2 separate regions of the Homo sapiens genome follow, and region 2 is linked to region 1. The links come from fine-mapping of genetic effects on gene expression. Tissue or cell type: fibroblasts. Region 1 holds a variant in brackets; the other region holds the start of a gene. All regions are shown on one strand. Distances are from middle to middle.

Region 1 (6,025 bases):
ATAGACAGCCTCTGTCACCCAGGCTGGAGTGCAGTGGTGCGATCATGGCTCACTGCAGCCTCGCCTTCCCAGGTTCAACAAAGCAGAGGCTCCCACCTCAGCTTCCTGAGTAGCTGGGACCACAGGCATATGCCACCATGCCTGGCTAATATTGTTTATTTTTTGTAGAGATGGGTCTCCCTGTATTGCCCAGGCTGATCTCAAACTCCTGGGCTCAAGTGATCCTCCCTTCTTGGCCTCTAAAGTGCTGGGATTACAGGTGTGAGCCATCACGCCAGGCCAATATTCTCACTTTTCCTCAACTTCATACTGTATTTCTCTAAATGCAGCACCAAAGTTTTTGTTTCTCTGGAAGCCATATCACATGACCAACTTTTATCATGAACTAAAACTTGTGTCCCTTTTTCATACACACAAGTGCTAACACATTTCACCCCTAACATGTCCTCTCACAGTTTTGTTTTGCTTCATTCTCTCCCTCGAGCTTGCAGTCCTTGGACTCTTTTCATCCTTTTAGAGGCTGCCTATCTTTCTGGCCCATCAAGACTCTCTTCTGGATCGGAGATCTGGAGACCAGGGGAAGACGATAACCATGTGAAAACCACGAAGGCTCAGCCGTGTGAGGCTCTTGCCTGCATCTTTCTGCTTTCCCCCCTTGTGGGTCCTTAAAAGCCTGCCCAGCTGCCCAATGAGGTGACCCCTTAGAGCCTGCCTGGCTGTGTTGACGTTCCACAAGCAATTGTCTGCAGAGGAGCTCTTGTGCTCCTTTTGAAGTTCAGTGGAGTGAAGTGTAATCTAAGTGAGCTGGAACACATTTCGATAAAACAGCTTGCATGGCCAGGGCCTCCTTTAGGCAAAGCCATTAACATGGGAAGCGGAGCCGGGCTCAGCTGAGCTTTCCAGTCTGGATTCCCCAGGCCTTCCACTGGCTTTTGATCACAGGACATTAGGATTTTGGTGCTCGGAGGGATAGCTCAGTATAACCCCCTTATACACAGATGAGGAAACTGAGGCCCAGGGAGGGGAAGTAACTTTCCTGAGGTCACATAGCTGGTGAGGTGCAGAACCAGTGTTGGGACACTTGTCCACACTGGCTAGACCCTCCCTGTGCTATACAGAATGGCAGATGGGCAGGGAGGAAAAAGATAGAAAGGACAATGCAAACATGGAAGGGTCAGGTTCCCTCCCTGGAGGATGCCTGGTGGGCCTTGGTGTCCACACACAGGCCAGACTGGCTGAGGAGGGGAGGATAAGAGCATAAGTCTGATGAGTCCTCACAACTTTTTCAAAGCACATTTGCATTGTTGGTCTCAATTGAGTCCCATAACACCAGGAGGAACTCAACAAGCCGGGCTGGTGTCTTGCTGATGGGGAGTCTACCAGAAAGGTGAATTGACCTGCTCAAGGTCCCAAAGAGCAGGTGGGATGCTTCCATGGGAGTGTTTTGCCCTGGAAAATGGCTTTAAAATCACTTGGGTAATATATGGGAAGTAACAGAATCAACTTTGTAAGGTTGTTGTGAGGATTAAATAAGTGCTTAGAATTGTGGCTCAGTAGGGCTGGCTTCTGTCATCACCATCATCACCACCATCACTATCACCACTATCATTACCAACACCACCACCACAACCACCCCATCATCACCACCACCACCACCATCACCATCACAACCACCATCACTACTACCACTATCATTACCAGCATCATCACCATCACCACCACCACCATCATCACCACCACCACCATCATCAACACATCACGACCACCACCACCACCATCACGACCACCACCACCACCATCACAGCCACCATCACCACCATCACAACCATCACCACTACCACCACCATTACCATCACCATCACCACCACCACCATCACCAACACATCACAACCACCACCACTATCACCACCATTACCATCACCATCACCAGGACAGCTGTTGTTCTTACCCACCCTCAGGACTGATCCAGCCAGCAAGGCCTACCCTCCCTCCCTTCCCCTGGGAGAAAGGAAAGCTGCTCTAGCTAAAGGTGGCCTCATTGCTGAACTTCTTGCCCAGACTTCTAATCCACTGATCAGAGGACCTTAAGAGTACCCTATGGAAACTCTGGATCCATGGTGGCCCCCATAGTAGGGGAGGTGAGGCTGACATTCTGAGGTGCCCAGACTGTGTTCTGGCTCTCTAGATACCCCTCTGAGCTTCCAGAGCCCCTGAGAAAGGGAAGCCATCCTGTCTTACATGTTCCCCCATCCTTGTTCTCCAGGGAGGCTTCTCAAGAGTAGAGGGCTGCAGAAGGGCTTTCCCTACTCCTGAATGCCAGCAGGTCCCCCAGAACAAGACATGCAGCCAATCCCTCACCACTTGGGGAGTGAGTGGGGGCAGGAAGGCAGGGGGGACCTGATCTTTCTCTTCAGCCTGGGAATCTCTGTGTGCTGCTCTCTGGCAGCAGATGGTTCTTCCTAACTATGTCTGACTCAGGCTGATGTTAGAATGAGTTGGCCTTCCTAGGAATTGACGGGGTGAAGAGAGCCAGGGCCTGCTGGGGGCCCCAGGGGACCCTTTCCATAGACAGAAACAGAACCTTCACAGTTCATCTTTTTGTGTGTTCTGTATTTGAATTCTTCTTAGCCTCATTCTAGTATCTTAGCTTTTTGAGGACAAAATTCAAGGACATTTTCTCTCTGCAAAACTCTTCACGGCAATGGTCAGCTGACTTTTCATTATGTATGCATAAATGGATGGATCAGTTCTGAGCTGGTCCCTCGCTTTGCTGTATCCTAGCATCTCTCCCTCCACCCCTCCATCCTTGAGTGAGCAACACGTTTCAGACCTCATGCTGATCAGCAAAGGTACAGAGAAGACAGAATCCCTCCCTCAAGGAACTCTCTCGCAGTAAACATCACACCTCAGACCACGTGGTGGGTGCCACCAGAGGATGGTACAGGTGTGTGGAGGAAGCAAGAGGAGAGGGACCTGGTCTGACTGAGAAGGTTATAGTCAGGGAAGGCTTCCTGGAGCAGGGGATGTCTGAGCAGAATCCTGCTGCAGGGCTCTGAGCCAGCAGGCATAGGGGGTAGGGATTTGGAAGGATGTTCAAGGCATCCCAGGCCACAGGGTCACCTAAGCCAAGATGCAGAGGCACCAAAGAACAGACAAGCCGGGGCCCCTAGGAGATGAGCAAGCGGAACATGGGGTGTGAGAGGGGAGAGACAGTGGTGGGTGGAGATGGGAGCAAGGCTTC[A/C]TGTGACAGCTCATCCTGATGGCAGCAGCATCCTTAGTGGAGGCTCATGTTTGTTCAGTCTCTCAATCAAAGCAGCAACATGGTAGGGGCGGGTGGAGGGTGGTGGTCTTTCAAGCCTAGGGCTGAATCCTGGCTCTGTCCCTTGGGGGCTGTATGATGTGGACAAGGCACTTAACCTCTGTGAGCGTTGGCCTCCTCTTCTGGAAACACGGGGATAATGGTCCCTCCCTTGGAGAGTTACTTGGAGAATTCACGAAAGCCCCCAGCAGAGTGTCTAAAACTTAAGAGGGGCTCCATAGAAGCTAGTTAGTCATTCCTTCCTTTATTCATTCTGGTTCTCCCTGCTGCTTGTGTCAACTCTACAGTCAGGTAAGGAAGCGAAAAACTCATTATGTTAATTAGGACATAGGTTTGGCTGCTGTGACAAAGGCCAAAGTAGCATTGGCTCCAACGAGACAGCAGGTCATTACTCTCTCACACAGCAGCTTGAGCATGAGCAACAGGCTGGATATGGTAGCTCCACATAGTTGGGCACCACCGCTCCTTCTCTGTAGCTGCTCTGCCACCTTAACACCCAGCTTCTATCTCAGGGCCTAAGATGGCTGCCCCAGCTCCTGCCACTGCCTTCACATTGTAGCCAGTGGGAAGAAGAGACAGGAAGTAGAGGGCTTAATCTTCCCATTAAAGGCCTGACCTGGCATTTGTACACATCCACCTGAGTGTTCCAGGTCACATGCCATTGGCCAGAACTTGGTGACATGACTATATCTGGCTGCAAGGGAGGTTGGGAAATGTATCTCTAACTCAGGGACACTCAACTGAGGAGACCTTTTTTTTTTTTTTTTTTTTTTGAGACACAGTCTCACTCTGTTGCCCAGGCTAGAGTGCAGTGGCGTGATCTCCACTCACTGCAACCTCTGCCTCCCAGTTCCAAGCGATTCTCCTGCCTCAGCCCCCTGAGTAGCTGGGACTACAGGCATGCGCCACCACGTCCAGCTAATTTTTGTATTTTTAGTAGAGATGGGGTTTCACCATGTTGGCCAGGCTGGTCTCAAACTCCTGAGCTCAAGTGAACCACCCGCCTTGGCCTCTCAAAATGCTGGGATTACAGGAGTGAGCCAAGCGCCCGGCCTGAGGCATTTCTTGGTCACAGCTGGGAGAGTGGCTGGTGCTAGGTAGAGCGCAGGGATGCTGCTAAGCCTTCTGCCATGCGCAGGACAGCCCCCGGCAACAAAGAGTCATCCAGCCCAAGATGTGAAGAGTGCCGAGGCTGAGGAACCCTACTGTAGCTGGGTAGCCAGGACTTCTATTACAAAATGAAGGAGAGAAATGGTACAGGGGATAACCAGCAGTTTCTGCCATAGTTACATACACTAATGGTTACATGATTGAAGAGGATTAAAATGATATATTTTCCCAGGGGTATCTCTCTCCAGCAGGGATCAAAACTTTAAGTCAATGGAGCTTCACGGACTATCAAGAATTAGCCTGCAAGACAGCGAGGACTGTGGTTGGCCAGTCCTGAAATCCCACCCCGTGGGTGGCCCACCAGAGCCACCAGGGAGGCCAGAACCCACAAAGCCTCCCAGGGAGACAGTGCTCCACAGGCAGGGTTCAAAGCCTGGCCCTGCAGCAGTTCACCTTCCAAAATGTTCTCCTTGCAATAACTTGGGACTTTTTGAAACACATTTCTGATTGGTTCTGTTTTCCAAGGAGGTGAAATCTGGGCTGGCCACAAAGGAGGGTGAGAGATAAGGGGGCCTTAATTTTCAGGAAAAATACAACAGTAAAATTTTGGGGGTATTCATTTGGCAACAGTAAATTACTTGTGTTAAATCTCTGCATGAGAAACGCCAACACAGAGGAGTGAGGATTTTAACATATTTTGTAAAACGATCCCTATTCAGCTTGGCTTTCTCAATATCTGTGGTTATTGGGCATCTATAACATTCCAGAAACTGTCCTTAGCACTTTATAGATGTTACCTCCTTTAACCTCTCTATCAACCCCACAAAAAAGCTGTAACTGTTATTCCCCTTATACAAAGAATCAGAGAGATGAAGCAATTTGCCCGAGGCCACACAGCTAGTAAGATGCAGTGAGACAAGTTTTTGCCTCAGGAATGTCTAGCCCTAAAGCTCATTTTCTTCCCACAACCACCTCTTTATCTGCCAGGATGGCCACAGGGGATCTAACCTATTGTTAAATGTCTACCCGACCTGGGAAGGAGGTTCACCCCATCTCGGTTACTTGCTCCACTGTCTCACCCGTAAACAAACCTCAGTCGGTGGATAAATGCTGCAGAGAATGGAGTCACCCATCCTCTAATTGCCAGCTGGGAAACCGGAGCACAGAGTGGTCAAGTGGCTTGTTCAAAGCCACACAGCAAGTGAGAAAGTAACTCAAAAGCCCTGTCCCTCAGCTCTAACGAATAAACAAACAGCTATGGTGCCACAGTCCCCACCACCCTGCAGGTCTTGCCAGGAAAGCTGAGCTATTCATCTGGGGAAGAGGTCCATGAGGGAAGAGACTCTAGATGTTCACAGCAGTGGGACTCCTAGGGGCTACACAGAGGAAACCAGCCAGGAAGAAAGGTTGTTTTTGTCAGCGGGAAGTAAATAGCAGTGACTCAAAGACACACGTGCTCTGAATCCTTTGAGCAGCCAGGGCCCATTTTTAGATAGATGCTCTTTTGAGCCATAACCACACCCAGTGCCACAAGACGGCATTTGTCAACAGGAAGCCCATCCCTGTGATGCATCTTCTCTCCCTCCTGCTCTCCGC
Region 2 (5,000 bases), 42 kb after region 1:
ACCAAGAAAAATAGATGGCTGGGAAATGGTAGGGCCTAACAATGATCTCAGGGCAATCTACTTCCAGCTTGTATGTGCTCTCCATTAGACTATATGGCACTGCCCATCGAGGTAGGGTCATTGGACTCATTTTATATATAGGGAAACTGAGGAGCAGAAAGAAAAAGCAACGCTCATGGAAGGAGACTTTGCAGGGGAGGGGAAACCCCTGAGCCTGGTGGGCCCTGGCAGAAGGATCCCTAAACAGGACTGAACCAAGATCTATCAGCTAGGGGATCCCTGACCCCTGCCAGTCTTCTCCTCAGACATTTTCAGGAGCAAGTAGAATGAAACAAATGTCAGAAGCATCCCTGAAGGAAAATGAAGCCCCAAAGCAAACTGCAACCTTAGAGGTGCGTGTAGGAGGCCCAGAGCCCACTGGACATTTTGCCCCTGCTGGTTATGATATGGCACGTGCTGCTGCTGCTTTTGTAGTACCACTTGCAAGTGCCATCTTGTTGTTCCTTCCCTGTCATCTTCCTGAGTTACTGTCCAACTGAGTCCCTGCAGAAGAGGACAGGGCAAAAGGCAATATGAATTGGACCAGCACCTCAATTCACAGTGTCCTGGTGATATAAGCCCTGCTTCTACTCCTGTAGAATAGTCTGAAGGGCTGAGGGTACTCTGGAATCAGATTGGGTGAGTGGCAGCAGGAGAGAAGAGCAGGGAACTGCCTCTTTTTGCCCAGATGTGGAGGAGTAGCTCATCTGGTCCAAGAGGAAAAGAGGAAATCATCAGAGGAAAACTGGTAGGATGAGATAAAAGGCAACTACGGGGCATAAAAATCAATCTTCCAGAGACATAGTGGCTTAGGTGGAAGAACCCACCAAACCTCCCTCCCTGAAAGCCAGGGCAATATCCGTACTCAGAGGGCCGGGAAATCACCCTGAACTGAAGGCCCCAAATAACCCATAATCCCCCTATAGAATCCTCCTTGCCCACCTCAAGGAGGATGTAGGGGCCCTCCCTCCAACCCCCCAGGGACCCGGAGGAGCTACACTAGTGTCCAAAGAAGGCAGAGGCAGAGCAAAGCAAGGCAGCGTGCCATCTCCCCTCCCAGCCGTGGGGGAGCTCCTCGGCTCTCTCTCTCTGTGCCCCCATGGAGATCACAGACACCGTCCGGCAACCTCCACTTCTTTCTCCTTTTTTGAAACCATTCTCTTGTTGGGGGCAAAAAAGATGGCAAATTTACACTTGTCCTCCAACCCTACACATAATTGGTGGCAGCAGGCAAAACCGCTGCAAGGGGAGGGTTTTGCCAGTGGAATGAAGGAGGGAGGGCATCTTAGAGTGACAAGGATGGGAGGGACCTCAATCATCTGACCCAGCCTTGCTGTGGCCTCCACACCATTCCCATGATCTATGTGCTCCCATCCCAAAGGTCATCTTTGATGCTATGCAAGGTTCTCCAGGACTCCTCCCCCAGGCTTCCTTGGGGCACTGCCCCCTTTCCACCACTGAGTGAATCCACTACCCTCTTGTTTTCTGAGGAAACTGAGGCCCATTGACATATGACTTGTTCAAAAGTAATCTTCATCCCAGGATAAGAAGTTTGAGTCTGTTTCCATCCTACTTTTCCACTGAATCCCTAGGAAAGGAAGGGCTCAGCTCTTCTCCCTGGTGGACAGCACCATTGCCAACAAAGTCCTCCCCTTGCCCCAGCTGATGTGGGCAGCCAATATGGAAGGTCTCAGAACTGAATCACCTTTGAGGAGATCTTGGTCATTGCCTCTTCCTCCTGGGTACGCTGAGGGCTCTGTGAGGCTAGTCTGGGTCCTAGCAGCATCTTCCCTGTAGAAAACTGGACCTGGCCTGGTCTCATTCTGAACACAGCCTCACACTCCAAGAAAGTCTTCATAGCCTTTCAAGAGGTCTTTCCTCTTTCCCTTACAATGGAAGGAAAGAAGATACAGAGTGGGTGAACAGTCAAGAGGCAGCATCCATGGTTGGAAGACCCTGCTCCTTCTGCGGTTTGCCCCTGTTTTAAAAATATCCTTTCTCTTTCCTCTGCTTCCCCTCAGTTGGAAGGATGAAGGGTTCAGAATGGACCAGTCAGGACCACCTCTTGAAGCGGGGTGCAGGTTTGGAGGAGCCTCTTGTACCTGTCTCTATGTCTCTGTGTTTATACACATAGACATGATTCTGTGGGGTAGCTTTCGCCCCTGTGCTGACCACATGAGAGTGTCTGTATGTGAGTCCATGTCTCTGCGGGTAGGGTGGTTCATTAGGCTTACCTCCAAGGCCTTAACTGCAAGGGAGTCTGCCCTGGAGCTGGCAGTTTTAGCAGGCGGAGGCTACTTTCTTTTTGGTCCTCAAAGTGGACTCGCATCTAGGAATGGGGACTGAGTCTTGAGGTTGGGGGTGTGGTAGGTGTAAAAGTTGAGAGGTTGTTACTCGGCCTGGTGTCGGAGGCGGTGTGTTCCGAGGTCCTATGTCCCCTGTCAGGCTGTGTCGGTGGACACGCCCGAGTGCCCGTGTGTCCGTGTGTCCACGTCTGCCCCAGCCTCCCCAACACCTCGCACCCTCTTTGTCTCGGGTGGAGGTGTGCGTTCAAACCTGGCGCCGCACGGCCGTCCTCGCGAGCGAGCGCGGGGACGCACCCTCGCTCCCCGACTCTTTCCTAGGGGAGCGAGGACGAGTCGGAGCCCGGTGCTGTTTGGTCTGGAGCCGAGCGGAGCTTGCATTGATCCATTGATTGCGCGCGGTCTGCGCCTGACCTCCCTGCTCCCGGGGAAGCCGTCTCCATGGAGACCAGGCCCGCTCCCCCATCGCCGGATTGTAAATTCCTGCAGGCAGCGGCCCGGCAGCCTGGGGAGGGGGCCACCGCGCCCGGGCGCGCAGGGGGAGCGGCCACCGCGCCGAGGCCCCATTTGAAAGAAAAAAGGGCACGAAAAAGGAGGTGGTGGAGAAGGAGGAGGAGGAGGAGGAGGAGGAGGGGGAGGAGGAAGAAAACGAAAAGGAGCGAGGAGAGGAGGAGAAAGAGGAGGAGGAGGAGAAAGGCGAAGAAAAAGAGCCTGAGAGACGGAGAAAGAGCGAGAGAGGAAGAAAGAGAGGCAGAAAGGGCGTGTTTCTGGCGCTGCGTTTCCCCTCCCCTTTCTCAGGTCCTTCGCTCGGGCTCTGCGCGCTCTCCGGCTGCAGCTCTCTCCCGGCGAAGCTGGGAATTGGGTGGGATTACACGGAGCAGCCCCGCCGCCGCCGCTGGCAGAGGCCGGCTTGGAGAGGGCGGGGGTTCCCCTCCGTCAGTCGCCCCTGGCGCCCCTCGCCTCGTCGCACTCTCCGCCTCGCTCTCCCCGACGTCCGGCCAGGAGGAGCCGGTAGCATCGGGAGCCTCGCGCCGAGGGCGCCGCGGTCCGCGCCCCGCGACTGCAGCCCCCGGCCTGGCCCCGGCGGGGCGCCCCCTCCCCTCCCCCTCCTGCGAGCTGGGATCCGGCCGGCTTCCGCCCTCCCCTGGCCGCGAGACCGGCCCCGGCGGCTGGGCCGCCAGTAGCTCCAGCCATGGGCTCGGGGCGCGTACCCGGGCTCTGCCTGCTTGTCCTGCTGGTCCACGCCCGCGCCGCCCAGTACAGCAAAGCCGCGCAAGGTAAGGAAGGAGGGGCGCGCGGCCTGGGGGCTGTCCTGGCTGCTGGGCCTCAGGGCCTAGGAGCGATTCCCGAGGGGCAGGGCAGGTGCTGGGGAGCGTGCTGCTGTCAGAACCCGGCTCTGTGCACCCGGACTCCCCGGCCAGGGGCCCGACCGCTGGGCGCTGCGCCCCGAGCGAAAAGCCGGACAAGCTGGGGGCGGCAGAGAGGAGTGAGAAACTCTTGGGGGCGGTGGGCAGAAGAGACCACGCGCCTCAGAATTCCGCTCGACTTCATCCACTCCCAGCATCTTCGAAAGACTTCTTGTCTTCCAAAATCTGAGAGAGAATTTTCTCTTCTCTCAAACATTGCCAGAAACTTACGCTGTGGCCTGGAGAGACTGAGGGAATAATGAAAACTTTTCAGCCGTGCCGTATATTTCTTTCCCTTACCCCCAACCCGCATGCAAAGTTAGACATTTCTAAGTTGATGCCTTATCAGTGGAAAAATGTTGAAGAAAAATAGGATCTTTTATGGAAAAATCAACTCATCTCTCACCGGATGGTAGGGGGCTGAAGAAGAGAAGAAAATTTCTGTGACTGGCTCCCGACAGGAATGTTGCGTTTCTGCCTCTTTGGGGTGAAATCTCTTTCGTCTTGCATGGCTTTCATTTCTTATCATAATATTTATTTATTAAGGCCTCGGGTTTCCAATTCCATTTAAATCCAGGTCAGAATTGCATTAAAATAACAAAGTAGAATTCCAGGCCGGGGAGCTCTGACAGATCCCTCTAGGAATTAAAGAGAGACAGGGAGGCCTCCCGCCCCCGTCCCTGACCCCCAGCTCATCGCCTGGCAGGTCCCAAGGCTGTGCAGGCAGAGACTAGGCTGATGTACTACAGTTCTCTCGGGACAGTTTCTCCTCCCCCTTGACCTCTTGCTGTACCCCTCCCCCATCGTGTCCTCACCGACAAGAGATTTATATGGACAAAAAGAAAATTCCTCCTGGCAAGGTTTTGCCCAGGAGAGTATGATTCTGCCTATTGTCCCAGGGGCTCCTGAAGCCAGCTGGGTGAGGAGATGGCTGGGCCAGAAGGAAAGTTGAACTTGGGAGTTGGGGAAGCCTGAGTGTCCGACACAGGTCGCTGTGTCCCAGAGCCTGAGCGTTTGGCTCTTAAGCTGCTCTGTTGTATTGGATGGGCTCCTGCTCTGTGAAGAGGAAGGTGCTGTATCAATGCCGCCCTCCTCTCCCCAAACACTGCCTCTTCAGCTAACCTCTTCCCCCTCCAACCTGTCCTTTCACAGAACTGAAACACTAGAGATCCTCAGCTGTCAAATACTGGACCCTGCCCCCACACCTTCCAGCCCCACACTGCCTCTTTTCCAGTCCTGGTTCCAGACAGCG

What was found. PIP is the estimated chance that this variant, and not a neighbour inherited with it, causes the effect. A credible set is the group of variants that fine-mapping cannot tell apart.
Region 2: it holds the start of SCUBE3, and the variant in region 1 is the best candidate, but not a certain one, in a credible set for the expression of SCUBE3 in fibroblasts (GTEx, PIP 0.59).

Annotation. Positions count from the first base shown.
Region 1 is chr6:35,167,899-35,173,923 of GRCh38, forward strand. No RefSeq gene overlaps it. Among named protein-coding and RNA genes, the nearest start is that of TCP11, 30 kb to the left of the region's middle. The variant A/C (reference allele first, on the strand shown) is at 3,242.
Region 2 is chr6:35,210,885-35,215,884 of GRCh38, forward strand. SCUBE3 (signal peptide, CUB domain and EGF like domain containing 3) reads left to right here and starts at 3,072. Exons shown (of 22, transcript NM_152753.4): 1 at 3,072-3,619. The coding sequence starts at 3,535. LOC112267955 (a long non-coding RNA gene) reads right to left here and starts at 2,796. Exons shown (of 3, transcript XR_002956343.1): 1 at 1,745-2,796. RefSeq lists a silencer at 3,096-3,205.